Regions from separate parts of the Homo sapiens genome. Here all the other regions are reported to be linked to region 1. Evidence: microRNA targets listed by miRTarBase, many of them from high-throughput screens and not tested one by one. Region 1 holds a microRNA gene; each other region holds the end of a gene's coding sequence.

What was found. Region 1 holds the annotated microRNA hsa-miR-4797-5p (GACAGAGUGCCACUUACUGAA, at 2,319-2,339, shown strand). A microRNA usually pairs through its seed, bases 2 to 8, with sites in the 3' UTR of a target mRNA and lowers its output. Matches are read on the target gene's strand: a 7mer-m8 pairs with bases 2 to 8, a 7mer-A1 pairs with bases 2 to 7 and ends in A, and an 8mer does both.
Region 2: the mRNA of SLC35E1 is a reported target of hsa-miR-4797-5p. Seed matches in the 3' UTR shown: 7mer-m8 at 1,879-1,885.
Region 3: miRTarBase lists PPIL6 as a target of hsa-miR-4797-5p. Seed matches in the 3' UTR shown: 8mer at 1,737-1,744 and 7mer-m8 at 2,157-2,163.
Region 4: miRTarBase lists MOG as a target of hsa-miR-4797-5p. Seed matches in the 3' UTR shown: 7mer-m8 at 2,266-2,272.
Region 5: miRTarBase lists VAPB as a target of hsa-miR-4797-5p. Seed matches in the 3' UTR shown: 7mer-m8 at 2,756-2,762, 7mer-m8 at 2,094-2,100, 7mer-m8 at 1,219-1,225 and 7mer-m8 at 128-134.
Region 6: miRTarBase lists SOCS3 as a target of hsa-miR-4797-5p. Seed matches in the 3' UTR shown: 7mer-m8 at 1,330-1,336 and 7mer-m8 at 1,936-1,942.
Region 7: miRTarBase lists ZNF419 as a target of hsa-miR-4797-5p. Seed matches in the 3' UTR shown: 7mer-m8 at 2,226-2,232.

The regions. Positions count from the first base shown.
Region 1 is chr3:197,292,181-197,296,257 of GRCh38, reverse strand. MIR4797 (microRNA 4797) reads left to right here and starts at 2,310; the gene lies at 2,310-2,380. All of the region lies in intron 3 of DLG1 (discs large MAGUK scaffold protein 1), which reads left to right.
Region 2 is chr19:16,549,898-16,553,974 of GRCh38, forward strand. It overlaps SLC35E1 (solute carrier family 35 member E1), which reads right to left. Exons shown (of 6, transcript NM_024881.5): 6 at 1-4,012. The coding sequence ends at 3,782. Among named protein-coding and RNA genes, the nearest start is that of CHERP, 9.5 kb to the left of the region's middle.
Region 3 is chr6:109,389,354-109,393,430 of GRCh38, reverse strand. PPIL6 (peptidylprolyl isomerase like 6) reads left to right here. Exons shown (of 8, transcript NM_173672.5): 8 at 494-3,216. The coding sequence ends at 605. Among named protein-coding and RNA genes, the nearest start is that of CD164, 8.9 kb to the right of the region's middle.
Region 4 is chr6:29,670,473-29,674,549 of GRCh38, reverse strand. MOG (myelin oligodendrocyte glycoprotein) reads right to left here. Exons shown (of 8, transcript NM_206809.4): 7 at 3,829-3,849; 8 at 2,185-3,378. The coding sequence ends at 3,365. It overlaps ZFP57 (ZFP57 zinc finger protein), which reads left to right. Exons shown (of 5, transcript NM_001109809.5): 5 at 792-2,067. The coding sequence ends at 2,050. Among named protein-coding and RNA genes, the nearest start is that of ZFP57, 8.6 kb to the left of the region's middle.
Region 5 is chr20:58,443,704-58,447,780 of GRCh38, reverse strand. VAPB (VAMP associated protein B and C) reads right to left here. Exons shown (of 6, transcript NM_004738.5): 6 at 1-3,704. The coding sequence ends at 3,546. Among named protein-coding and RNA genes, the nearest start is that of VAPB, 57 kb to the right of the region's middle. RefSeq lists an enhancer at 803-1,304.
Region 6 is chr17:78,354,846-78,358,907 of GRCh38, reverse strand. It overlaps SOCS3 (suppressor of cytokine signaling 3), which reads left to right. Exons shown (of 2, transcript NM_003955.5): 2 at 1-2,130. The coding sequence ends at 490. Among named protein-coding and RNA genes, the nearest start is that of SOCS3, 3.2 kb to the left of the region's middle. RefSeq lists enhancers at 1,422-2,071, 2,129-2,628, 3,454-3,503, 3,827-4,062 and a silencer at 2,207-2,394.
Region 7 is chr19:57,493,491-57,497,490 of GRCh38, forward strand. ZNF419 (zinc finger protein 419) reads left to right here. Exons shown (of 5, transcript NM_024691.4): 5 at 1-2,608. The coding sequence ends at 600. Among named protein-coding and RNA genes, the nearest start is that of ZNF773, 4.4 kb to the right of the region's middle.

The DNA of each region.
Region 1 (4,077 bases):
TTAATTCTCTGAGGCATTCGGTAACTTGAACATCTTCAGTGAGTTGTGTGTTTTTCATAGGCCAGTGTCCTTTCTTAAAATAACTAGTAACCAAAAAACTTTCAGGATTATTTCAGTGGCTTTTGAGAACATTGTTTCACATCTTAATAGCATTAACTATTAAAAGATGTTGCACAGATGTTTAAGGACCTAAAAGGTATGACTGAGTTACTGTGAGCTTGTTTCTGTATTTGACTGGCATGTCTCTGAAGTCATTGAAAGCGTGTGAAGGGTTCTGCTGTGTTGAAGAACATTCATTCCCTTAATGTAGATTTCTGTTTGAGCTTGGCATTCATGGAGTCAGAATTTTAGACCTGGAAAATAATCTTAGAGATGATCTTGTCTAGTAACCGTATTTTACAGGCAAGAAAATGGAAAGTTTTATTCTTAATTGTAACTTAATTTGAAGTGGTGCATTGTTTGAAAGAACTGGAAAAATAAGAGTCCTGAGTTCTTTTGCCACTAATTGAATGATATATCCCAAGTCATTTAATCTTTTCTATGCCACCATATTAGCTGTAGAATGTAGCTGTTGAAATGACAGAATGGGTTTAAAGCCTTTTTTAAGTAGATAAATCATTTTTAAAAGCATCATCTCATATTTTGTGTATAATCTCCTATGTATAAAACAAGGTGACTTGTCTGGCTCTTTTGTCCAGGTACCTCAAAAAGTTTGCAAACCACCGAACTAGAAAGTTTGTCTCTTCCAATTCTAAGAATGAAGTTTTTTTTTTTTGTTTTAGTTATCAACTATATAACATTTTAACATAAGAAGACATATACTTAATTATATTACATTTATTTCTTCAGTAACTTCCAGTCAGATATGGCCTTACATCTATCTGTTGATAGAATAATTGTTGGTGTGATTTGAAGACTACTTTCAAGTCAGTGTGTCCTGTCAGGTACATTATTGATAAATGGATGCTCTCTACGGTTTTAGAATGAAAGATTTTTGTAAAGACCACTTGATGCACCTGAACAATTTTGAAAAATGTAACATTTTAATAGACTTTTAAAAACATAAGGATACATAGCACAGTGTAATGAACTGCCTTTTAACTGTTACCCAGCTCCAGAAATTCACATTTTGCCATTTTTGTTTACATTGATGGACATTTTTTACACATTTGAATTTCTGAGGTTTAAGGTCCGAATGGATGATCAAATTGGATTCCTCTGGAAAAACAGCAAAAAGCATTTTTTAGTTATTTGTTTTCTAAATCAACATTGAGCCTAGTAATTTGGTGCAGTTACTGTTGCAAAAAAAGTATGTTTTTTCGCAACAGTATAGAGATATATATATACATATATGTATAGATAGGCAGATAGATAGACTGCAGACTTTTCTTTGTGTGATGGCTGTAACTTAAGAAAATTAAATCGTTAGTGAAATAACAGAATCTACATTTATATTTCTGTCTAGATTGGGGATGGGTTTGCTGTGTTCAGAGACATTTTTGACCTATTCTGCCTTGCCTGTTTTGAATGTGTCTATTCTTACGTACAATTGAACTTTGATAGAGTTAGCTTTCTTCTCTTTTTTTTTTTTTTTTTTTTTGAGGCAGAGTCTCACTCTGTCACCCAGGCTGGAGTGCAGTGGCGAGATCTCCGCTCACTGCAAGCTCCGCCTGCCAGGTTCACGCCATTCTCCTGCCTCAGCCTCCTGAGTAGCTGGGACCAAAGGTGCCCACCACCACGTCCGGCTAATTTTTTATTTTTTGTATTGTATTTTTAGTAAAGACGGGGTTTCACTGTGTAAGCCAGGATGGTCTCGATCTCCTGACCTCGTGATCCACCCACCTCGGCCTCCCAAAATGTTGGGATTACAGGCGTGAGCCACCGCGTCTGGCCTAGAGTTAGCTTCCTAATTACTAAGTTTATATTTGTGAATCTTCTAATTTCATTGGTTGTGAATTTACTTTGACATTTAAATTTACTTATATTTAATGTTCTATAGGATGTGGTACTATATCACATTTTGGTGTAAGACAAGTAATAGATTTTAGGAGTTTTGAAATAGATAACGTTTAATAGAGGTTCTGTGTGTTTCCATGCTATAATTGTTGATACTACGGAATAAATACATTCTCTTGTGTTTCCTGAATAACTTTTAATACTTAGTCTGAAAATGTTTAGTCTGATAAGATTTTCTTTGTATTTTGCAACTCTACCATTGTTTTGAAACAGTGTCATAAATGTACTTTAAGCTTGTAAACTGCCCTAAGCTAAACCAGTTCATTGTGTCCATAGTGTTTGCAGAAAAATCCGACTCAGAAGACAGAGTGCCACTTACTGAAAGGTTTTTTCTCTCAGTAAGTGGCACTCTGTCTTCTGAGTTGGTACCTGTGGACCACTGGATTAAAGGAGAACAGGGGTCTTGGCCACCTGAGCTGTTTGGAGTCATTGAGTGCTTAGATTTTTCACTTCCTTAATTTGGAAATCACTTGTTTAGGCCGCAGTGAGTTATCTAGTTATCTGTTTGGGGTGCCAAGTGTCTTTGGATTTTCAGTCTGCATTGATCATTTATTGATTGATTCTTTGAACTGGTAGTTTATATTGACTTTTCATGCATTTAAAAAAGTTTGAGTCTCTAGGGGTTTGGTGTCCCCCCCTGTAGTTGATACATAGATTAGGTTCCTGTACTTTTGGATTATTCAGAGGGACAAGCATGTACGTACTGTATTATATTTGTTCTAAAATACCAACTGTTAAATATTTCAATATCTGGTATATGTCATTTTTAATTGACAGTGTTTCTGTGTTCTGACACATGAAATAGTGCATTTTATAATTGATACTCGCAATGTAATATAGAAATCATTGGTCTAGTGCTGATAGATACTTGGTAGTATCTTTGAAGGATGGCTTAAAGATTTAAAAATTATTGAAAGCAGAAAAGTTTTTACTAATTTTGAATTTCAGCTGATGTATTGTTTCTTTAGAGCTAAATATTTAAAGTTGTATCTTAACAAAAGTCCATGAACTGCACATTTGTTTAAAATTTACTCCCAAAACATACCTGGTGATTATTTTTGTATAAAGGAAGATAAAGTCTGCTTAATTTCACTCTGTGATTTAGGTGAGAGCAATTTGAAAACTTGCTTTTGTATTCCAGTTTTTTGTGCTTAAGTTTGAAAATTTTTTGAGTAGACGGGATATGGTTTGATTATAATCAGAGCCCAGGTATTCAGGTCCATAGTGGTTTCAGTTCATTCATGATTCTAAGGTGTGTGGGATCTGAGATGACACTGCTAGTCCATAGAGACTTCATACCAGTCTAAACCCCTGCAGTTATTTCTTACGGGATCAGAGAACTCATCTGCTTTCCTTGTGCATGAGAAAAACTGGGGCCCAAGATTAGGCTGGCTTTAGAGACTTGAGTAAGTTGAGTCATGTGATTTGTATATTTTGTCTGCAATAAATAAGCTTATTCTAATGCAGTGTTTTATTTCTGCAGAGATTTCAGAATGAAAGTGGATTATGTAATAATACTGTCCATTTATGAGTTTAGTTACCAGTTCATTTGTTGCCACTCTATTAAAATCTAATAGTTTCACTAGCCCTTATAAAAGGACATTACCCTATCTTTATTTGTAGATACTAGTTTCAAAAGTATGACCCCTTTGCCATCTTCACCATCTTTAAATGTACAGTTCAGGAGTGTGAAATGTATTCATATTGTTGTGAAACAAATCTTCAGAACACTTTCGTCTTGCAAAACTGAAATCCTATACCGAATAAACAACTGCTCCCCTTTCCTCTCACTTCCCAGCCCCTTGTGACCAACGTGCTGCTTTCTGTTTCAGTGAATTTGATCATGTTAGAAACCTCATAGAAGTATTTGTCTTTTTGCGACTGGCTTATTTCACTCAGTGTAGAGTCCGCAAGGTTCATTCATGTTGTAGTTGTTGACAGGATTTTCTTCCTTTTTCAGGCTGAATAATATTCCGTTGTATGTATATACCGCATTTTATCTAGCCATCCATTGATGGACAGTTGGGTTGCTTCCTCCTCCTGGCTGTTGTGAATAATGCT
Region 2 (4,077 bases), not on the chromosome of region 1:
GCAGAAAAGTCTATAGCATTTAAGTCTTGAAAACAGGTGACAATTGAAAAACATTATAATATTTTCAGGTCTTTTAATAATTCAATGCTCTGTGTCCTTCAGGCTGTGAGACCCTAAGGTATTGGGGTCTGGTAATGTCCCAGCTATAGCAAAGGGCCTGTTGGGTGACATAGGACAAATATACAGCAAAATTCAGAAACTGCAAGTGCTTCCTCACTTGAACGGATCTGGCCCCTTTGTGGTAGGGGCTTGACTGTTCCTAGAATGAATGACTTAAAATAAGGTGGTTAAAAATTCTGCAGTGAGTCTCGCCATGGTGAACAAACATGATTCAGAAATGCCTCCTTCTATAAAATGAAGGAGCTGGGTTGGAGTCAGTATTACCAGCCAGACCATACCCTGATGGGTAAAGGAAATTCTCTACCACAGAGCTCAGCAGTGAGGTGGCTGAGAGGAAGGCAGGCCTGCAGATGAAAGCGTGGGAGTGGAGCATGTGGGGCGGGCACTGTCCGGCTGGGAAAACCCAGCCTTCAAGAGGCCATTGTCAATCAGGCTGGGCACGGTGGCTCATGCCTGTCATCCTAGCACTTTGGGAGGCCAAGGTGGGCGGATCATTTGAGGCCAGGAGTTCGAGACCAGCCTGGCCAACATGGTGAAACCCTGTCTCTACTAAAAACACAAAAAATTAGCCAGCCGTGGTGGTGCATGCCTGTAATCCCAGCTACTCGGGAGGCTGAGGCACGAGAATCACCTGAACCCGGGGGATGGAGGTTGTAGTGAGCTGAGACTGCGCCACTGCACTCCAGCCTGAGCAACAAAGCAAGACTCCATCTTGGCAGGGGGCGGGGGGATGTGGACCTTCAAGTCTCAGAAATATGTGTTTGTCTTTTGATCTGCTGATTTGGTGTAACGTGATTGCCTCATTCATTCCAGTGTACGTACTTGCTGTAAATTTATATACAGAATTAAATAGCCCATTTATTAATTTATAAACCATAATAAAACCAGACAGTCATTTCCCGTCACCAGCAGATCTTGCATTGGAAAAGGAAAATAATATACAAATTTCAGCAACTTCAGAGATTTCAGGAAGCCTGAATGGAGGTCGAATTCATTTTGGAGTTCAATAATATGTTCAAAGAATCAGGTACTATATATAATCATATAGACAACTCCCGTAATATCTCCGCAGTGCAAAATTATCCCTGTTTCTTGTCATTCACCAGTGAGAAAAATCCAACTGCAGACTTGACTGCCTTCGGTGAAGGCACACGGCAAGTTCTTCTGACAAATAACACCCTTTGGGATTGACTCTTCACGTTTTACACAGCAATTGTCTCAGCTTGGGACCAAAGTATTTACAAAGCAAGCGAACAAGAGACGAAGCAAGAGGGACACTTCTGAGGCCGGTGGTGCGGAAACTCACCGCCAAACAGGGTGGGGGGCCAGTCACCTCTTCAGGAGTGTCCCATGTGTCAGCTGACATAACATCTTAAATACAGAATTCCAATTGAAAGAAAAACAAACAACAACAAAAGAAACACCAGTCAAGCATAAGTGATGTTACTTCCTCTCTGAACAGGGAAACATCTCGCTCGCTGGGAGATAAAAGGTAAATCTCTCATTTGCTGCTCTCTTCCCCTAAGTGCCAGCAAGAAGCTGGGTGTGGTGATGAAGAAAGAAGGCAGCCATCACCTAAGACCCCACAAGCCAAGCCGTGGTCCCCTCCGTGAGGGCACGGTCCTTTCATGAAGCCGTAAAAGAGACCACAGCTCGGACCTGAGCACTCAGGGTTACCTACTGGGGTCTTGTCATATTCCTTATGTTGATTTCTGCCAAGACCCAAACTGATTCCTTTTTTTTTTTTTTTTTTTTGAGACAGAGTCTCACTCTGTCACCAAGGCTGGAGTGCAGTGGTGTGATCTCAGCTCGCTGAAACCTCCACCTCCTGGGCTCAAGTGATTCTCCTGCCTCAGCCTCCCAAGTAGCTGGGATTACAGGCAGGTGCCACCATGCCTGGCTAATTTTTGTTTTAGTAGAGATGGGGTTTCACCATGTTGGCCAGGGTGGTCTCAAACTCCAGTGATCCACCCACCTCAGCCTCCCAAAGTGCTGAGATTACAGGCATGAGCCACCACGCCTGGCCCCAAACTGACTCTTGACCAAAGAATCTGATTTGGCAAACCAAATCTTAGTGCAGTGTTCGCTCCTCGTCCCCTTACCCAGAACATGATTCAGATCCTAACATAAACACAAAAACAGGTCAGGGAACCAAAACACTGTGGTCTTGTCTATTATACAAAATATTGAGATAATGTTCACGATTCATTCTGTTTTCAGCAATTGTGACAATTTTGAAGCTTCTCTCGAAGCTTCGAAACACTTCATTTCCTACTAAATACCAAAACGTGTCAGACAGGCATCACCAGTGGGAACTTGGTTTTGTTTTGTTTTTTTTTTTGAGATGGAGTCTCGCTCTGTTACCCAGGCTGGAGTGCACAATCTCGGCTCACCACAACTTCTGCCTCCCAGGTTCAAGCAATTCGCCTGCCTCAGCAGCCTGAGGAGCTGGGACTACAGGCACGCGACACCATGCCCGGCTAATTTCTGTATTTTTAGTAGAGATGGGGTTTCACTATGTTGGCCAGGCTGGTCTCGAACTCCTGACCTCGTGATCCGCCCATCTTGGCCTCCCAAAGTGCTGGGATTACAGGTGTGAGCCACTGTGCCTGGCCGGGGAACTTTGTTTTTAAACGTTTACAAACAAAAAGATTTTCGATGCATAGGCCAGTCCTAATGCATCCCATAATGGGGACCAAGGCAAAAACACACACACACAACTACAAAATATTCCCTAGAAAAATGCAAGATCCTCCGAAAATCAAGATCTCTCTACCAAACAACATACCAAGTCATCACAGAAGAGGTGAAGATGCCTCTCAAAAGACATGTGCCACAGAAATAGAGCTTGAAATACTGAACACGATTTCTCGAAGATCCTTCTCACCACCCCAAGAGAAGCGCCCTGCTCTGGTGAGGGAAGAGGAGGCAAAGGAGAAGAGAGAAGTTTCCCTTCCATCTGGATCTGGGTGGATGCCAACCCTGACGTGCAGGGCAGAGCACCAGGCTGCAGGAACTGGATGCTAATTGCAATCGCTTTTTGCTTTGGAACATTTGCCAGGAACTTGTGAACTGCTAAGGGGATGACCAGGAAACTGGATCCATCTCTGTGGCTGGGGATGTTTTGAATGATTCTCGCGGGCTCCCTGTCTGCTTGGTGACCCTGTTGGTCCTATGCGTATCTGCGCCAGGGAATTAAACTAGCCAGTCTGACGTTCTCAAGCACCGCCCTGGACACCCCCACTGCCAGTTCATGGTCTACAGCCACAGTGACCCCAGCTTTTCACACAGGTCCTGAATGTTATCTGGAATGCAGACACAAGTGCTCTGAGCTACACTGCTTGGGGAATAATTCCACATGGAAAGGTACAACGTGGCCAAGATCTCCGCAGGGACACGGCCCTCAGATGACAGACTCCAGGAAGAAAGAGCATGAGACACTGGTCTCTGTTTAGGTTTGCCCAGAGCTCACGGCCGTCTGCACTGCAGGCAACGCATCCTCCTGCGGCTCACGGGGGGCCAGGAACCCCAGGGCTTCTGATGGAGAGTTATGCACCGTCCCCTCGGCTGGGTTGTACATTCACTGATTGTCAGAAGTTTCTGATACTGCTGTGGGGGCCGGGGAAGGAGTCACCAACAGTCTGGTCCTGTCCTTTGGACTCTACACATCATAGCGGTTCAAACTGTACGAGTTTGGGTAGCTCTGCCGGCTGTATTGGAAGTGGTCTGTTAAGATGTTGTTGCGGCCGTACTGATAGTCCCCGTGCTGGGGGAAGAGGAGGCCGTTGTGGGGCTTCTCCAGTGGGCTCCGGTGACGCTCCTTGCTGCTCAGGTCTGCTGTGGTGACGGGGAGGAGGTGCTTCCTGGCTTGCTGGTTTGCATCGTACTTGGTCTGTGCCAGAAAGAGAGCAATGAGACAGGACATGCCCGGGGCATAAGAGCTCGTAATTCAAAGTC
Region 3 (4,077 bases), not on the chromosome of region 1:
AACATAGCAAGATCCTATCTGTACAAAAATAAATAAACAAAAATATTGGCCAGGCCTAGTGGCACACACCTGGTAAGCACTGGCTACTCAGGAGGCTGAGGCAGGAGGATCACTTAAGCCAGGAGGTCAAGGCTGTAGTGAGCTAAGATCATGCCACAGCACTCCAGCCTGGGCAACAGAGTGAGACCCTGTCTCAAAAAAAAAAAAAATCACCCTGACTGCAGGGAGAAAAACAGAGGGGAGGGTGCCAAGCAGATGGAGGAAGCCAGCTTAGAGCTGCGGCAGGAGGCCAGCTGCCTGGATGATGGCCCTGGATACTGCAGGTGTGGTAAAGTGCACACATCCAGAGAGGTTTAGGATACTTAGAGCTGATGTTCATTCAATTTGTAGGAAATAGTCTTAGCTATAGCTGGGTAGGACCCCATTTCGGAATGTTAAGCTAAATATGAAAACTTATGACTGACTAAATTTTCCATTTTTTTCTCCTATGTAGGCAACTGATTGAAGGAACAGAAGTGCTTAAACAACTAGAATTAGTTCCAACACAGAATGAAAGACCAATACATATGTGTAGAATTACTGACAGTGGAGATCCTTATGCTTGATTTTCATATCAATATTTTCTGTGATAATTTATTACTTTGTATCTGATCAGCTGTTTGTGGATTTAATTAAAAAGTACTTGATAAATTGTAATTTGAAAGCCGTGGCAGACACTGTAGGTTGCCTCATCTACACCCAATCCCTCCCCATCTTCCTTTCCTGTCTCTGTCATAGAGACTGTGAAAGGGTGGTACTCAATTTCCTAGACTCCTTTGCAGCCACGGGTGGCCATGAGAGATGGTTCTGGCCAGTGGGACAGGAATAGAACGCCAGTGGTCCTGCCCCTTCCCCTTCATCCAGTCTGGAATGTGGAGAGGCTGGAGCTACAGCTGTCATCTTGTGGCCATAAAGAAAAGGCTGAGGCCAGGTGTGGTAGCTCACGCCTGTAATCCCAGCACTTGGGAGGCCGAGGCAGGTGGATCACAAGATCAAGAGATTGAGACCATCCTGGCCAACATGGTGAAACCCTGTCTCTACTAAAACTACAGAAATTAGCTGGGCATGGTGGCATGCACTTGTAGTCCCAGCTACTTGGGAAGCTGAGGCAGAAGAATCTCTTGAACCCGGGAGGCGGAGGTTGCAGTGAGCCGAGATGCCGCCACTGCACTCCAGCCTGGCGACAGAGAGAGACTGTCTCAAAAAAAAAGAAAGGCCAAGTACTGCAGAGATGTCAGCCCCAGTCTCTTGAGCTGCGGGACCAATACCAGCAACCACCTACTCTGGACTTCTTATTATAGGAGACTAACAGAGCCCTGTGTTGTGTTGTTTATGTTACTGTTGGTTGAGAATTTTGTTACTTGTGGACAAAAAATTCTTAATTTAGCAACACACCTGATAGCCTAAGACATTTGTAATAGAATTATGTTCTTGTTTGTAACTACATGTACTCCTAGGAGAAACTTGGTAAGTAACCAAATAGGAATGATGCAGAAGAAAAAGCAATTCATTGTAATATTTCATTGTTTATACCAGCATTCAGAAAGAGTATCTACACTTTGGATGTTTTCATATATGACATGAACATCATCCTTATCTCTCTGAGCCATACCAACCCTATGAAAACCAAGGGCTTGTTTTACAGTGTCCGTGGTGGCTGACTCATGTGATGTTATTGGAGATTCAGCTTTATCACTACTCTGTAATCTAAAGTTCTCAAGCTCATATCACCTGGGGAGCTTTTAAAATGTAACCTAACAGACCTTGTCCTTGACCTACTGAGGCAGAGTTCCCAGGCGTGGGGCAGAGATTCTGTGTTCATTTGGTTCTTTCCCCAGGGTTCCCAGGCGTGGGGCACAGATTCTGTGTTCATTTAGCTCTTTCCCCAGGGTTCCCATTTAGACAGCTGGGCACTAGTCATCTGGGAATCACTGCAAGACATAAGGAACTGGTTCCAGTCCCCATGGTGTAATGTAGTCAGCAGAGTGCTTGACTCTGCTATTGGTGACCTTGCTCAGCTCCTGTTACCACCACTACCCTGTGCCCCTGCTCTGCCCAGACTAAGAGTGCTTTTCTTTTTTTTTTTTTTTTTTTTTTTTTTTTTGAGACGGAATCTCACTCTGTCGCCCAGGCTGGAGTGCAGTGGCACAATCTCGGCTCACTGCAAGCTCTGCCTCCCTGATTCATGCCATTCTCCTGCCTCAGCCTCCCGAGTAGCTGGGACTACAGGCGCCTGCCACCACGCCTGGCTAATTTTTTGTATTTTTAGTAGAGATGGGATTTCACCATGTTAGCCAGGATGGTCCCGATCTTGTGACCTCGTGATCCGCCCGCCTCGGCCTCCCAAAGTGCTGAGATTACAAAGGCGTGAGCCACCGCACCCGGCTGAGAGTGCTTTTCTTACCCTAAGCAGAATGAGGTTTGTCTTCCAAGAACAATCTCTATTTACATCAGTCTTAAAGAGGCAGGCTTCTAATGGATATGAGGCTTGCCAAAAGTAGGCGTAGGCTTTTTTAACTTTTTATTTTGAAATATAGATTCACAGGAAGTTGCAAAAATAGTACAGAGCAGTCCTGTGTACCTTTCACCCATTTTCCCCAGTGGCTACGCTTACAAAACGGTAGTACAATATCAAACCAGGCAGCTGACATTGGTACAATGTGTGTGATGCCATTTTATCATGAGTATATTCATGTAACCAACACTATAGAGAAAATATAGAACCTTTCCAGCACCTCAAAGACCCCCTTCCAGTACCCCTTTACAGTCAACCCACTCCCCTGCCCTCTGCCATCCCTAACTCCTGACAACTGGCATTTGCTTTTCCTTTTAATGACAGCTTTATTGCTATATGACATATGCTTTATGCTAAGACCTGAGGTGGATGGGAGGAAGCAGACCGCCTATGTTACATTCTCAACTGACCCAGAGCAACATAGTGTTAAGAATGTGTGTTCTAGGGCCAGAATCCTGGCTCTGCCATTCCCTAGCTGCACAAACTCAGGCAAGAACTTTTCTGTGCCTCAATTCCTTCATCTGAGAAACAGTGGTACCTACCACATAAGATTGCTGTGAGGGTTCCATGAATCAATAATTTCTATAAAGAACCTATAAGAGACCTGGTCTGCTGTAAGCACTCGATAAATTTAATAATAAATTACTAATGTGTAACCTTCAGGGTGTAGCCTCAGAGCTTGGACTTTTTGAAAGCTCTCCAATGACTTTGATAGCCAGATTTGGGAATCCCTGAGGAGAGTCTCCCTCTTCCTGTACTCACAGACTTCTGGGCAGTCTGAGAACTCGGGTGATTTGTCTAGAGCTTCCAGACCCTCTCGCTGGGCCTTTGCCCAGGTTCCTCAGGTCACACTGGGGACATCTCAGACAAAAGGGAGCTGGGCTTGCCACCAGGATTCAAAACAATTGGTGAATGAAAACTGATTCTTTGCAAGGAGCCCGGTTAAAACACATGACAAGCGTTACTCATGTAATAACAAACAGCAGGGCAGTTCTTACTGGTGATGAACCTATATATTAATGGCATTAGGCATTTTATCTGATGTTGTGAAAGAACTGGGATATTTGTGTGGGTGTAAGAAACTGATTCCAGCTCCCTTTGTCAGCAGCAATAGAAAGGTAGAACTCTGCCAGTCTTCTCAAGGATGGCGAGTTCATGGTCCCTTTGTTCACTCTAACTTTCCACTTCTGGGCTGTGGAAACCTCAACCACAGATCCATGCAGTGGTTCTTATCACCAGCACTTAAAAGTATACACACTGATACTTCTGTGCTAGAATGATTTGTATGTTTAACCTCATAGTTGAAGAAACTGATTGTTAGAAGGACTCAAAAGTTTACTCCAATGAACTCCACATGTAAGACTTTGATTTAACCAAACTGAAATACACTAATTAAACAGAAGGGATTCTAGATTTTTCCACATCTACAAATAGGACAATAAAGGCCTTCTGATGATTTACACAAAATGCTAAGTTATATGTCTAAACTTGCCCTAATTGCTGATATGGCAAAGTCAAGTACA
Region 4 (4,077 bases), not on the chromosome of region 1:
ATTATTATGTGGGTGTCTGTGGATTGTCTATGGGAGTTTGAGCAATATTGAGAATGAGATAAGATAGATTTCAAGAAGTGTTGTTGTAAGTTAAAATTTACATTTCTGACAGTGTTGAAAGATTCCAGTTAACTTTTTATTTGCTTCTAATTTGAAAAGCCAATTTTTTCTTTTTTTCTTCTTATTTCTAGCCTATGAGGCCCAAGGGTAAGGATGAATGTGTTGGGTGGGAGAGCAAGGGCAGAGACAAGAAGTGTGTTAGGCTGAATGGAGTGCTGTGTTGGAGTTCTTCTTCTTCCTCTTCTTCTTCTTCTTCGTCTTCGTCTTCTTCTTCTTCTTCTTTTCTTTTCTTCTTCTTCTTCTTCCTTCTTCTTCTTCTTCTCCTTCTCTTCTCCTTCTCCTTCTTCTCCTTCTCCTTCTTCTTCTTCTTTTTCTTTCTTTCTTTTTTTTTTTTTGAGACAGAGTTTCACTCTAGTTGCCCAGGCAGGAGTGCAGTGGCACCATCTTGGCTCACTGCAACCTCCGCCTCCCGGGTTCGAGTGATTGTCCTGCCTCAGTCTCCCTAGTAGCTGAGATTACAGGCAGATGCCATGACGCCCAGCTAATTTTTGTATTTGTAGTAGAGACAGGGTTTCACCATGTTGGTCAGGCTGGTTTCGAACTCCTAACCTCAGGTGATCCGCTGGCCTCGGCCTCCCAAAGTGCTGGGATTACAGGTGTGAGCCACCATGCCAAGCCTCTGTTGGAGTTCTTACAGTGAATTTTGTGTTATTCTTCCTCATTCACTGTAGAAGGCAAGAAGAAAGAGCTTCGAGAACAACATCCCAGTCTGAGAGATGAGGGGACTAGTGATGACAAGGTCTTCCTTGCATGCAGAGGGGCCGGCCAGTGCCCCCTATCTGCCCCAGCTGGGACTATGGACAGGACCCGGGTGCTTCAAGCATCCCAGGCTGGGCCACCCTTTTTTTGCTACACCTGTGGCAAATGTTTCAGCAGGCGCTCCTACCTCTATAGCCACCAGTTTGTTCACAATCCCAAGCTGACTAACAGCTGCAGTCAGTGTGGGAAGTTGTTTCGGAGCCCCAAGTCCCTCAGCTATCACAGACGCATGCATCTTGGGGAGAGGCCCTTCTGTTGCACGCTCTGTGACAAGACCTACTGTGATGCTTCTGGACTAAGTCGTCACCGCCGCGTCCATCTGGGTTACCGGCCCCATTCATGCTCTGTGTGTGGGAAGAGCTTCCGGGACCAGTCTGAGCTCAAACGCCACCAGAAGATACACCAAAACCAGGAGCCAGTGGATGGAAACCAGGAGTGTACTTTGAGGATTCCAGGCACCCAGGCTGAATTCCAGACACCCATCGCCAGAAGCCAGAGGTCCATCCAGGGGCTTTTGGATGTGAACCATGCACCAGTGGCCAGGTCCCAGGAACCCATATTTAGAACTGAGGGTCCTATGGCCCAGAACCAGGCATCTGTACTTAAGAACCAAGCACCTGTGACCAGGACCCAGGCACCCATCACTGGAACCCTCTGTCAGGATGCCAGATCCAACTCTCATCCAGTGAAGCCCTCAAGACTCAATGTCTTCTGTTGCCCCCATTGTTCTTTGACTTTTAGCAAGAAATCCTATCTCTCCAGACACCAGAAGGCCCACCTCACAGAGCCGCCCAACTACTGCTTCCATTGCAGCAAGTCTTTCAGCTCATTTTCCAGGCTGGTCAGACACCAGCAGACCCACTGGAAGCAGAAGAGCTACCTTTGCCCTATCTGTGACCTCTCCTTTGGGGAGAAAGAGGGCCTTATGGATCACTGGAGGGGCTATAAAGGCAAGGACCTGTGCCAGAGCAGCCACCATAAATGCCGGGTGATCCTGGGCCAGTGGCTTGGCTTCTCTCATGATGTCCCCACTATGGCTGGGGAGGAATGGAAGCATGGAGGTGATCAATCTCCCCCCAGGATCCATACCCCCAGGAGAAGAGGCCTAAGAGAGAAGGCCTGCAAAGGAGACAAAACAAAGGAGGCAGTGAGCATCTTGAAACATAAATAAATGGCCTTTCTGACTGAGCTCTTTCTTTGTGTTTAGTTTTCCTGAGGACTGACCTCTGGGGTAATGAGGCTGGAGTAGAGGGAGACAGGTGCGTGGATAAGGAAGGAAATACATAAAAGACAAGGGGTTAGAAGTGTGCTTATGAAAACTTGTATTATTATTTTTTATTTATTTATTTATTTATTTATTTATTTATTTATTTATTTATTTTTGAGACAGAGTCTTACTCTGTCACTCCGGCTAGAGTGCAGTGGCACGATCTCAGCTCACTGCAACCTCTGCCTCCTGGGTTCAAGCGATTCTCCTGCCTCAGCCTCCGGAGTAGCTGGTATTATAGGTGCCCACCACTATGCTCAGTTAATTGTTTGTATTTTTAGTAGAGATGGGGTTTCACCATGTTGGCCAGGCTGGTCTTGAACTCCTGACCTCGTGATTCGCCCGCCTCGGCCTCCCAAAGTGCTGGGATTACAGGCGTGAGCCACCGCACCCGGCCAAAACTCGTATCTTTATTAATTAGCACCTAGCTTGTTTGTTTGTGTCTGACCATCAAGTAGTAGTTGTTGAATAAACAGTGGATACTCTGATAGATATGAAGATAGGAGAAAAGGATGAGAGGAAGGAAAGATTCTGAGACCTGTGGAAGATGTGTAAGTAGAAGGAAAACATTCTAAAGCAGGCATGTTGCCCAGCTTTCGTTTTTGCTTCCCCAGGTCCCTAGTAGGCTGCCAAGACAAGGAGGAGCTCTGGCTAGTATTCTGTAGGTTTCTCCCCATCTCCAGGTTTGGGTTGGGGCTACTCATATCCTCACTCTTCAGCTCACTCAGCTCTCTCTTCAATGTTTTGCACTCTTCCTCTTCCTTCCCTTCACATGCCTTTCAGTTTTGCGCAATCAGGGCTGGAGTCTTGGAAGAAACAACCACCATTTGCAAAGTTACCATACTGTAATTTTCAGTGAGGAGATTCCTGGCCTCCAGTTCATGGCAGAGACCATCCTGTGTTGCTCTCCAGTACAGGTGTCCTCTGATGGAGAGAGGGGCACCTGCCTGTCCTTAGCCAGAGAGGGCTTCCAGGTGGAAGACTGGAGAGAGAAATGGAAAGAAGGGTAATAAAAATGGGAAAATGAAGAGAAAAGGTAGATGACAGAAGAAGGGAAATCAATTCTACTTGGAATTCAGAGTGTTCCTGAAAGTGCAAATTGGAATGTCCCCATAGCAAAGATGCCAGTGAGTGTGCAACTTGATGGATGAGATGTCCCCAAGGACAAATCCCTGGGCAACCAGGCTCTCCTCCACCCCTGCCAAGATGTGACATCACTCAGAAGGGATTTCCTAGAAGAAGGAGAAAATAACTTGAAAAACGTATGTCAGTAGTTTGTATCATAAAACCATTGAACTAGGGAGAAGAAAAGCCCTTGGGGTCATCTTGTCTCCATTCCTGCCTCAATGGTTGATCTGAGAGGTGAGGCACTGGGCAGTTGCTGTGGAATGGGCAATGAGACCAGCTAGGGTTGGATTCCTGCTTAGGGGCAGTGAAGGAGGAATGGATCAGGTGGCAGATAGGAGTGCCTCCAGCTTCTCTGCCACCTGTAAATGTGTCTCTAACAGCTGGCTTCTTTGCCCTCTACCTCCCAGGAGGAGTCTTCCCTCCACCCAGGCTCTCCAGCTCCTCCTTTCCTCTGGGAATGTGATCCCTCAATAGCCCGCCTCTTCCTCTTGTTGCTTCTGTCTCCCTTTCCTGGCTTTTTATTCTCTGCTTATAACAGAGAGAAGAGAACTTACGTAGCTCTTCAAGGAATTGCCCTGAAAACAAAAAGAAACAAATATGTGATTAGTGGAAGATGAATAGCACCTTCCCCACATCCTCCCTATGGACATTTGGAGTGACCCACACTGCCCTTTCCACTGGGGGATCCCACAGATCCAGTAAGTGGTTCTCTTCACAGTTTCTCAGAAGAGCCTGGGGTTGGGCATGGGGACAGAGGAATAAGGAAATCCCAGCTCCCCTAATCTTGAGTCCTGGTTCTATTC
Region 5 (4,077 bases), not on the chromosome of region 1:
GGATTCTGAGTTTGCAAACACAAAAATTTGTGTATGCAAAAAAATATAGGCACGATTTGAAAACTGTCAAGCTACTGACATACGGCACATATGCCACACATGCACACATGCACACATGCACACACACACAGAGTCTGTTTTCAAATTCATCTGAAAGGCTCTGTAGCTCTGAGCTCTCACTACATTCAGTTCTATCTGACTCAACATAGCCTGCAAACTGGGCAATGATATCTTTCGATAGCAATTCTGTTCCTGGGATTTGTTTGAAAGCGTTTAGGTTTTCACGGATCACTGGAGGTTCTTCATTTTTCCCCCTTCTGTGTTATGGAGGTATAAGTCGTCTCTCTAGCCATAAACTGGCCACTGGTAAAAATCAATTTTGATTTTATCAGTATGTATTACTGCTGGTGCCAGCAGTTCAGAAGACGAGAGAAGGAAAACATGCAAACTAGGAGGAGAAAAAAGTTAAAGCCAGTTCCTCACACCTACAAATAAAAAAGCCTGCTGTCTTTAAGAGGTATTTTGTATCGTGCCAAGGAAGCTTAAGTTACCAATTTAAAACTTCAATCAATAAAAACTTTCAGGATTCTGTCACCGCTTCCATCTCTTCTGCATTTGTGAGCACTATGGCTGGCATTTCTGAAGCCAGGGCCGCCCTCTCTGAGGTGCTGTGGAGCCAGTAACCACAGGAGCAGACTGGAGGGCAGCCTGGCAGCAGCTCCCCCATGCACACTGCCCAGCGGCATCCTCCCTAGGCTCGCTCTTTCCATGCCAGTTTCGTCCCGATTATCTGACTCTTAACCCTCTTGGGGCAGGGCAGGCCGTTGTGACAGGCCCCATATTCACCTCCTCTTTGCCTTATTCTTTTTTTCATTATGTAATTCTAGGGAAAACACCCTAAATGTGCATGCATCTCCAAGTCCTCCAGGAGCCACGCGTGCTCCACATTCTTTCTTTTCCTGGCACATTTTTGGCTGCCAGGATGACTGAGAAAATAATCAACCTTCCCATCAGTCACCTGTTTCTCTTCCTGAGCAGTTTCCTTCTGCCACTCAGTCAAAAGGCCCACAAACATGTTCACCAAGTCCTAACCTCTAGAAGGGAGAGAGACTTCAGAGACTGATTTTTAGCTGCAACCAAAATGTCCACATCCTCTGAGAAGCTGAACACCTTCTCCTAGATGTACACAAAACTCTAAATCACCTTCAAAGGTCTAAAACAGAGTAGTTTCTCAGATATTCTTTTTAAGAACTGTTACAGACTCACAAGCCAAATCCCATGACCCGGCTGTTTTTGTGAATAAAGTTTTATCAAAACACACGGCCATATCCTTTAAAAATAAATAGAGCCCTGCTCTAGTGTAATGGGACTGTACTGTACCCCTAGGCACTGTTGGGGACCACCTAAGCACTCTCCTATCAAAGACATGAGGGCCTGGAAGCTACAGGACTTAACTGGCTGCAGCAACTACAATTAGTAAATTTTAGTCCCCTCACGGAAAGTCAGGTGGCAGAAGGCACATGCCTTACAGCTCGGTCTTTTCACTCCCTTTTATAAGTACTGGGGGACACATGGGAAAAATCCTGGAGACGAATTCCTATTGGGGTGGCCTCCCTGTCTGCACACTCAACACAATCCATGGGTGCCTGGGTAACAACTAAGTCTGTTCACCATTTCTGTGAGTACCTGGGATTCAAAGTCAACTTTTTTCATGAAGACAGGAAGTTACTTACTCAGACCAACCATAGACTTCCACTTCTCCAGTTTCAAGGCCCCTGACCCAGCTTGACAGAGCCAGGCTTAGGAGCAACGTGGCTCAACGTATGTGACTTCTAAGGACTGCCTTCCTTCTGATGAACTTGTCCTCTCAAACCTGTGCACAGTGGGACTGTGCCCAGAACGCCCGTTACTAGTCTCAATGGCATGGTTCCCTGACCTAGAAGGGAGGCTGCTTTTTACTGAAGGCCAAAGCAATGGAAGGCCAAGGGTGACCAGGTGCTCAGCTTTTTCAGCAGTTTCATTTTTCATACTGTCAGCTGAAGACAACCAAAAAAAAAATACACACACACACACACACACACACACACACACACACAGAGTTAAATCATGAAACACGTATTTCTCAGTGATAGGGCTCATTTTAAAGTTAACCTTCCAATGGCAAAATAATAAAAATGATAAAATAATAATTCCCCCCATAGAGCAAATGTGACAAAATGACAAAAGAATTCTTAATTTTGGGGCTTTATTATAATTTTTCTTTTCAAGATGCTACATAGTCAAACAGAACTGGGTTGGTCTTTTATGGCATAAAATTAATTCACAGTCAAACTCTCAACTAGTACTAGAAGGATTCGCTGAAGAGTTTCTCTCTTCCCTTGCTCCCCACCCACAACTGCTGGTGCCCTCGCTTCTAACCCTCTGCAGCCCGATCCATTTGTCCTGACTCCAGGCTAGGTCCCCAAGGGGAGGTCAGGCTCAGACTTGGACCTGGGCGCTGGAAGTGTGAGTAATGGTTGAGAGGTGGTATAAGAACAATCTAGAAGACTGACTACTCTTCATTAAAAAAGGTAACCTAGAGTTGACTGTCACTACTGAGAATTTCCCTCCCTATGACAGTTGTTATTTACTGACCCAGAAAAAACACTTCCTGGCAGCTCTTCTCCAGCATCCCAATAAACCCCACCTCCACATGACCAGACTCTCCAGAGACAGAGGAGCCCACAGCCCTCCAGCAGCAATACCAGTTCACCCAACAGAGTTCAGCAGCACGCAGCATTAACTGTACTCTTGTGACAATAAGAAAACATGAGATGAAATACATTAAATAAGTTAAATATGCATTAAACATCTCTGAATAACAGTTTGACTTCACTACATGAACCAATACAAATTTAGCTTGGTCCCTTTAAGTGAACAAAGCACTGCCATTTATTTCCAAAGCGCTGGGTCAATCAGTCAACACACGCCTCTCACTTATGACGAGTACGTCTGATGCTGCCACAGTGCAATTCCTTTGGGCTTCTGACTCTGTTCATCAGTCCCAAGGAGCTGATGGCTTGGACAGAACTGAAGACACGGAAAGCAGCCTGGGCCGGGAGTGGGCCACGTGGGGACTACTGTGTGGAGCTGACCGCACTCCCCAGCATGCTGGGCTCCAGCTCCCCAAGGGCCAGCACCAACAGGCGAGGAAGGGTGTCATTTTAAGAGAGGTAATCCAGCATCATGTACCAAGGCCTACCAATGTTTAAAATGACATTTACAATATGCCATTGTGGCATTACTCATGGTTTCCCTTGTCATTAATAAAGATCATTCTTTTCCCCCTCAATCAGTTACTATACATTTTTAACTTTCTAAAAGATCGTTACATTATATTTGTGTGTGTGTATCTGTGTATGTGTGTGCAGGGAGGGGTAATTTAAAGGCAAGACCTGTGAGATGTCATCATACATTAATTTCTTTTTACACATGGTTATGATAAATTTAAATCCCATGATATGGTGGATCCACCAATCCAATTTACCATCCTGTGCATGCTACCTCTACAAGGCAATCTTCCCAATAATTACACCAACGATAAAGAACAAAACCACCAGAGCCAAGAGCCGGGTGCTAAGGCCTTCTTCCTTCCCAGTTGGGGCTAATGCTGAAATGGGGCTGTTGCTCTGCACTGTCTTCCTCATCCGCAGTCCATCTTCTTCCTACGGGAGCAAACGCACATTTCAAAGACAAGCCAAGGCACCAGAAAGGGGAGTCAACTGTACAGCTTAACGGGATGGGCTGTTTATGCCCAGTGTTGGATGACATGATATGGTCCAACCGCATTTTGCAAACGGAGAAACTGCAGGCTACAGAGGGGAAAGGGCTAGCCTGAAGCCACTGAGAAAACAGTCCCCTCTTTTCTTTCATCCATTCCACTTGCTGCTGCTAGTTACAACAGACATCTAAACAGGGTGCTCCTTGGTTTCCCGTGATTTACAGAAAAAAGCACTTAAAAGGGTCAACTGGGCCCTTTGCACCCTCGGCCCCACCCACCTCTATGGCCATGTCTTCCGGATGCTTCTCTTCAACCCC
Region 6 (4,062 bases), not on the chromosome of region 1:
GCCCGCCGGCACCTTTCTGATCCGCGACAGCTCGGACCAGCGCCACTTCTTCACGCTCAGCGTCAAGACCCAGTCTGGGACCAAGAACCTGCGCATCCAGTGTGAGGGGGGCAGCTTCTCTCTGCAGAGCGATCCCCGGAGCACGCAGCCCGTGCCCCGCTTCGACTGCGTGCTCAAGCTGGTGCACCACTACATGCCGCCCCCTGGAGCCCCCTCCTTCCCCTCGCCACCTACTGAACCCTCCTCCGAGGTGCCCGAGCAGCCGTCTGCCCAGCCACTCCCTGGGAGTCCCCCCAGAAGAGCCTATTACATCTACTCCGGGGGCGAGAAGATCCCCCTGGTGTTGAGCCGGCCCCTCTCCTCCAACGTGGCCACTCTTCAGCATCTCTGTCGGAAGACCGTCAACGGCCACCTGGACTCCTATGAGAAAGTCACCCAGCTGCCGGGGCCCATTCGGGAGTTCCTGGACCAGTACGATGCCCCGCTTTAAGGGGTAAAGGGCGCAAAGGGCATGGGTCGGGAGAGGGGACGCAGGCCCCTCTCCTCCGTGGCACATGGCACAAGCACAAGAAGCCAACCAGGAGAGAGTCCTGTAGCTCTGGGGGGAAAGAGGGCGGACAGGCCCCTCCCTCTGCCCTCTCCCTGCAGAATGTGGCAGGCGGACCTGGAATGTGTTGGAGGGAAGGGGGAGTACCACCTGAGTCTCCAGCTTCTCCGGAGGAGCCAGCTGTCCTGGTGGGACGATAGCAACCACAAGTGGATTCTCCTTCAATTCCTCAGCTTCCCCTCTGCCTCCAAACAGGGGACACTTCGGGAATGCTGAACTAATGAGAACTGCCAGGGAATCTTCAAACTTTCCAACGGAACTTGTTTGCTCTTTGATTTGGTTTAAACCTGAGCTGGTTGTGGAGCCTGGGAAAGGTGGAAGAGAGAGAGGTCCTGAGGGCCCCAGGGCTGCGGGCTGGCGAAGGAAATGGTCACACCCCCCGCCCACCCCAGGCGAGGATCCTGGTGACATGCTCCTCTCCCTGGCTCCGGGGAGAAGGGCTTGGGGTGACCTGAAGGGAACCATCCTGGTACCCCACATCCTCTCCTCCGGGACAGTCACCGAAAACACAGGTTCCAAAGTCTACCTGGTGCCTGAGAGCCCAGGGCCCTTCCTCCGTTTTAAGGGGGAAGCAACATTTGGAGGGGATGGATGGGCTGGTCAGCTGGTCTCCTTTTCCTACTCATACTATACCTTCCTGTACCTGGGTGGATGGAGCGGGAGGATGGAGGAGACGGGACATCTTTCACCTCAGGCTCCTGGTAGAGAAGACAGGGGATTCTACTCTGTGCCTCCTGACTATGTCTGGCTAAGAGATTCGCCTTAAATGCTCCCTGTCCCATGGAGAGGGACCCAGCATAGGAAAGCCACATACTCAGCCTGGATGGGTGGAGAGGCTGAGGGACTCACTGGAGGGCACCAAGCCAGCCCACAGCCAGGGAAGTGGGGAGGGGGGGCGGAAACCCATGCCTCCCAGCTGAGCACTGGGAATGTCAGCCCAGTAAGTATTGGCCAGTCAGGCGCCTCGTGGTCAGAGCAGAGCCACCAGGTCCCACTGCCCCGAGCCCTGCACAGCCCTCCCTCCTGCCTGGGTGGGGGAGGCTGGAGGTCATTGGAGAGGCTGGACTGCTGCCACCCCGGGTGCTCCCGCTCTGCCATAGCACTGATCAGTGACAATTTACAGGAATGTAGCAGCGATGGAATTACCTGGAACAGTTTTTTGTTTTTGTTTTTGTTTTTGTTTTTGTGGGGGGGGGCAACTAAACAAACACAAAGTATTCTGTGTCAGGTATTGGGCTGGACAGGGCAGTTGTGTGTTGGGGTGGTTTTTTTCTCTATTTTTTTGTTTGTTTCTTGTTTTTTAATAATGTTTACAATCTGCCTCAATCACTCTGTCTTTTATAAAGATTCCACCTCCAGTCCTCTCTCCTCCCCCCTACTCAGGCCCTTGAGGCTATTAGGAGATGCTTGAAGAACTCAACAAAATCCCAATCCAAGTCAAACTTTGCACATATTTATATTTATATTCAGAAAAGAAACATTTCAGTAATTTATAATAAAGAGCACTATTTTTTAATGAAAAACATGACTTGAGCCTTTTCTGCACCCCTGCCCCCCCGCCCCCCGCCCCGTGCCTTGCTTTCTCTTTCACCCACACCCACACTCTGCATCGGAGAGGAGGAAGAGAGCCGCAGAGGGTGGAATCGAATACGTCTCAGCCTTACGTCAGCACGCCTGCCTCGTGTGTCACTGACAAGCTAAGGCAGCCACCTAGACTTACCGAGAGGGGTAATTCCTGCAAGTCTGATTCAGATCTGACCAGAATATGCAAAGCAAGTTCGAAGGAAGCGCTTCAAAGGGCTTGCAGGGAGCAAGCTGAGCTGTGGTCAAAGCTTTTAGAGGCTCCAGGCTATTAGAGGCGCTCTGGTTCCTTGGCAGGGAGTCGTTCCGAGAAAGCCCAGACATGGGGTCCTAGTGGTGACCTATGACCTCAGTCTAGCCAGGTTCACTGGAAGTGGGGGGAGGGGTGGTCCTGAAGCAAATCTTGCATGCAGGTGGAGCCCCACCCCCTCCCCCACCACAGGACCCCAGGCATTCAGGGGCTTCCTGGCCACTGCTCCCCATGCCTGCTTCCCTTCCCCGTTCCTAGGGGCCCCAACCTGAGCAGCGGACAGGATCACCCTCCTCCCAAAAAGCACCCATCTATTCATCTCTCTCTTTTTTTGAAACAGGGTTCGCTATGTTGCCCAGGCTGGTCTCCAGCTCCCGGGCTGAAGGTATCCTCCCCTCAGCCCATCTATTTTTAGTCACTCTCATTTAAACACTAAGGGGCACTTAGAGGTTACCTGGATTAAGCATCCCACCTGCTCCCACAAGGCAGGCATTCTCATCCCCATGTTCTCAGACATGGCCACGTGCCCCATGTGAGCCAGGACTTGGACTGGTCACTTCTGGTGCCTAGATTGGTGCTCAGTAAATATTTGTCAACTAAGTAGGGGCAGCAACTCAGGTTCAGGGAGGTTAAGCAACCTGGCCAAGGGCACACCACTTGGGAATATGGGGAAAACAGGATTGGAACCCAGGAGCATTTGATTTCCAAAGCCCATGCCTCTCTGCCTCTCTATACACTCAGCATATACCTGCCCCCGGAGTGAGTCCCTCCTTAAAAGCCAAGAGGTTAGTACCCTTCCCCCCAACTCTGGGGTTTCAGCACTAGGGTTCTTCTAATAGCAAAAAACGTCTTCTCTCCTGTAATCCAGCACTTTGGGAGGTCGAGGTGGGCTAAGGGCTGGAGCCCAGAAGTTCAAGACCAGCCTGGGCAATATAGCGAGACCCTGTCTCCATTTAAAAAACAGAAACCAAAAACAAAAACAAAACCACCTTCTCTGAGGTATTCTCCTTTCATGCCTCCTTCTCTGATCCCCGTGACCTGACAGCTGGGAAATGAGTGTTAACCCCAAGTCAGGGGCCCTTATCTCTCTCAGATGACACAAATACCAGAGCCTCTTCCTGGCCCCCTTGCACCCAATATACTGCTCCAGGAATCGGGGTCCAAAAGGCAACAGAGAGTAAATAAACAAAGTCGTTTTTCTTTCCTATTTCCTGGGACTTTTGGAGAAAATGACCTGAAGTGACGAGAAGGGGCCAGGCCAGGCACGAGGCGGCTGAGGGGACAGAGCATATGGGAGCCACACCACAGGCATCATGAAGGAACTCCAGACTGGCAATGTAAACCCAGGTAGGGCCACCTTCCCAAAGCACAAGTGCAGGTGAGGGGGCCCAGTGGGGTGTGGCTCCCCAGTGCCTTCCAGAAGGATGATGAGTCTTCCTCGCCCTGGGGTCTGCTGGTCAGCCACCACTGCCTTCAGCTGCACAGAGTTCCCCTTTCACTGGAATAACAGCCATGAGGGAACCGTGAACCTGGGGTCCTTGTACTTTTTTGTTTTTTGAGACAGGGTCTCACTCTGTCACCCAGGTTGGAGTGCAGTGGCGCTATTATAGCTCACTGCAGGTTT
Region 7 (4,000 bases), not on the chromosome of region 1:
GTAAGGCCTTATGAGTGCAGTGAATGTGGAAAATTGTTTAGTTTCAACTCCAGCCTCATGAAACATCAGAGAATTCACACTGGAGAAAGACCTTATAAGTGCAGTGAATGTGGAAAATTCTATAGCCACAAGTCCAACCTTATCAAACATTGGCGTGTTCATACTGGAGAAAGGCCTTACAAGTGCAGCGACTGTGGGAAATTTTTTACCCAATGCTCAAGCCTCATGCAACATCAAAAAGTTCACACTGGAGAAAAGCCTTTTAAGTGCAATGAATGTGGGAGATTCTTTAGAGAGAATTCCACCCTAGTTAGACATCAGAGGGTTCACACTGGAGCAAAGCCTTATGAGTGCAGGGAATGTGGGAAATTTTTTAGCCAAAGCTCAACCCTCATGCAACATCGAAAAGTTCACATTGGAGAAAAGCCTTTTAAGTGCAATGAATGTGGGAGATTGTTTAGAGAGAATTCCAGCCTTGTTAAACATCAGAGGGTTCACACTGGAGCAAAGCCTTATGAGTGCAGGGAATGTGGGAAGTTTTTTCGCCACAACTCCAGTCTTTTTAAACATCGAAGGATTCACACTGGAGAAATGCAGTGATTGTGTGAAATCCTTTAGCCAGCGTTTCAACCTCATTCAACACCAGAAAGTTCACAGTGGAAAAAATCTTGAAGGTAACAGATGGAAATCCGTTAGCCACACCTCCAGTCTCATTCAACACTGGACAGTTTACAATGTGGACAATGTAGTGAATATGGAAAAAGGTTTCAGCCAAAGGCCTAACCCTATTCAACACCAGAAAGTTTACACTGGAGAAAGGCCTTAGGGTGACAGGTTATGTACTGTCTCTGAATCAATATGACCTCACTTAAAACAGAAACTCTGAGGATGGCCTTTATGAGGGAGCTGGCAATTGAACATCATTCATCTAAATATGCACACTGGAGGCAAGATGAGAATTCCTGACAGATTGTCCTTCCTGAGAAGACAGCCCTCTGCCTTGGAGCTCCAGAGAGAGGGAGCCCTGTATTCTTGGCTGTACCCGTCGAATGGAGTTTTGATCTCGCTGAGTTTGGAGTTGGGGGAGGAAAGGAGTGGTCTTGGTTCAAATGTGACTCACTTTTGCTGTTCTTGTGAATGTTAGATCTTCTTTAATAAATATTTATTTCCCATACACCCTTATGACCATTTCCAGAGACTGAATTGTGTTTTTATAATTTTCACCCTTTTGGCTGTGTAACAGGTCTGCAAAGCTCCTCATTCAGTTATTCTGTAAGTTGATCCAAATGTTTCAAATTTTAAGAACTTGCCAAATTGTGTTCTAAATGGTTAGCATTTCATATTTCCTCCTGGAATATATTAGATTTTCCATTTCTTCACATTACTGACAGTTTATATGTGTAGAAGTCATAGGCCATTCATTTTAGCCATGTTACTAAGTGTGAAGTAGTATTTCATTGTAGTTCTTAATTTGTATTTTTCCGATGACTCAGTTTTGAGCATTTTTTAATGTGTTTACTTGTCACCCATATATCTTCTTTAGTCAAATGTATTTTTTGCCTGTTTTTTAAAACATTTGGTTGGTTACAAGTTCTTAATATTTCTGGAGACAAATTCCTTATTTGATATAAGCATTGTCAATATTTTCTCATGGTCCATGGCTTTTGTTTTCTTTTCTTTTTTAAAATTTAGAGATGAGGTCGTGCTATGTTGCACAGACTAGTCTCTAACTCCTGGCCTCAAGTGATCATCCTGCCTCAGCCTCCCAAAGTGCTGGGATTACAGGCATGAGCCACCATGCTTGGCCTTGTTTTCAGTTCTTAACAGTATCTTTCCTAGAGCAGATTGTCTTAATTTTATGGAGCCCAATTTATCCATTTGTTATTTTATTCATTGTGCATTTGGTGTTGCATCCTCTTACTATACCATATCTTTGCCTATAAATAAAAGCCTTGACTGAGTGCGGTGGCTCACGCCTGTAATCCCAACACTTTGGGAGGCCAAGGCGGGTGGATCACGAGGTCAGGAGATTGAGACCATCCTGGCTAACACAGTGAAACTCCCTCTCAACTAAAAATACAAAAAATTAGCTGGGCGTGGTGGCGGCTGCCTGTAGTTCCAGCTATCCTGGAGGCTGAGGCAGGAGAATGGTGTGAGCCCGGGAGGCGGAGCTTGCAGTGAGCCGAGATTGCGCCACTGCACTCCAGCCTGGGGCACAAAGCCAGACTCTGTCTCAAAAAAAAAAAAAAAAAAAAAAAAAAAAAAAAAAAAAAAAAAAAGCCTTATGTGAGTATGCTACTGTAATCTTATGAATCTTTTTAAATATCCAACTTCTGAAATATTTGTAGGTTTAACTACAAATAAATAATTCAATATATAGATAAATGTGTACATATTCCCTATCTTTACTGAGAGCCTAGCAAGCCATGGCATTCCAGTAGTTTTGAGCACATTTAATACCCAGTTATTGGTTTATATCATTTTTTAATAAAAGGAACCAGAACTCCTTAGAGAAGAGGCTGTTTTCAAGTTGTGGCAGAAAAGGTACAACATGATTTGAGGAAATACTGCATTGGAAAATAAATAAATGTTCACAGAATAATGTTGACATATTAGCTTTTTATTGCTATCCTGACAAATCACCACAAACTTATGGTTTAAACAACACAAATATAACAGAAGTCTCACTGGGTTAAAATCAAAGTGTTGGCATGATTATGTTCCTTTCTAGAGTCTCAGGGAGGATCTGTTTCTTGCTTATTTCAGTTGTTAGCATATTTAAGTTCTTCGTGGTTGTAGGACTGAGATTCCTTTTTCTTGATGGCATCAGCTGAGGGTCATTCCTAGGATATATAAGAACTTTTATGAAAAAGGAAGAAGTAATACCAATTGTATACAAACTTCCAAGAGGACAAAGGTTCAAAGAATTCTGGACTATATGAAAGTTAGCATTAACAGGACACTAAAGCAGGCAATGACATTAAACAAAACTATAGACCAATAATCACATGAATATAGACACAGAGCCTTAAGAAAATTTTAGCAAATTGAGGCACTCGTCCTTCAAATCACCCCCTTGGGTCTCTTCCAAGCATACTTGCCTTTCTTTCCTGTTCTAAAGCCTTTTTAAATAAACTTGCACTCATGCTAAAACAAAACAAAAAGACATTTAGCAAATTGAATCCAGCCATATACAAACAATAATAAATCATAACCTAGTGAGGTTTATCAATAATACAAGTTTGATTCAACAATTCAAACTCTTTATTAATCTATATTAGCAGACTAAAATGAAAATCTCAAAATGTAATAAAAGCATTTTACAAAATTCAAAACTAGGTTATGATACATGCAACAAATTAAACAAGATGGTGATTTCTTCAACCTGATACAGCACATCTATGAAAAACAGCTAACAGCACATTTGATATATATGTGATCAAATATTTGATAAGCTGATTTTCCCCAACATTAGGAATAACATAAATACGTCAACATTCATCACTTCTCATTAAAAAAAAAATCTAATGATTGTAAAGGCAGAACCCAAACTGTCTGTATTTACATATGACATGATAATGTTGAAAATTCGAAATTATCTACTAAAAAGCTACTAGATCTAATAATTGAGTTTAGCAAGGTCCTAAGATAAAAAGGCCAGTGTATAAAAAGTAGGTGTCTCTACTAGGTTGGTATATAGCTAGCAAATACATGCTTGGCAACTGAAAAAATGTACTTCACAATAGCATAAAAATATGAAATATTTAGAAATAAATTTAACAAAATATGTTCAAGAACTTTAAAACATTCCTGAGAGACATTAAACAAGGCATAAATAAATGACACAAGAAGTTCCTGAATCTGAGACTTAATACTTTGAAGTTGTCAGTTTTCCTTTAACTATCCTAATAAAAACCTAATCTTTTAAATAAAAATTTACAAATGTATTCTAAAAAGTTACATGGAAATACAAAGGGCCTGGACTAATTGCCAAAACAAT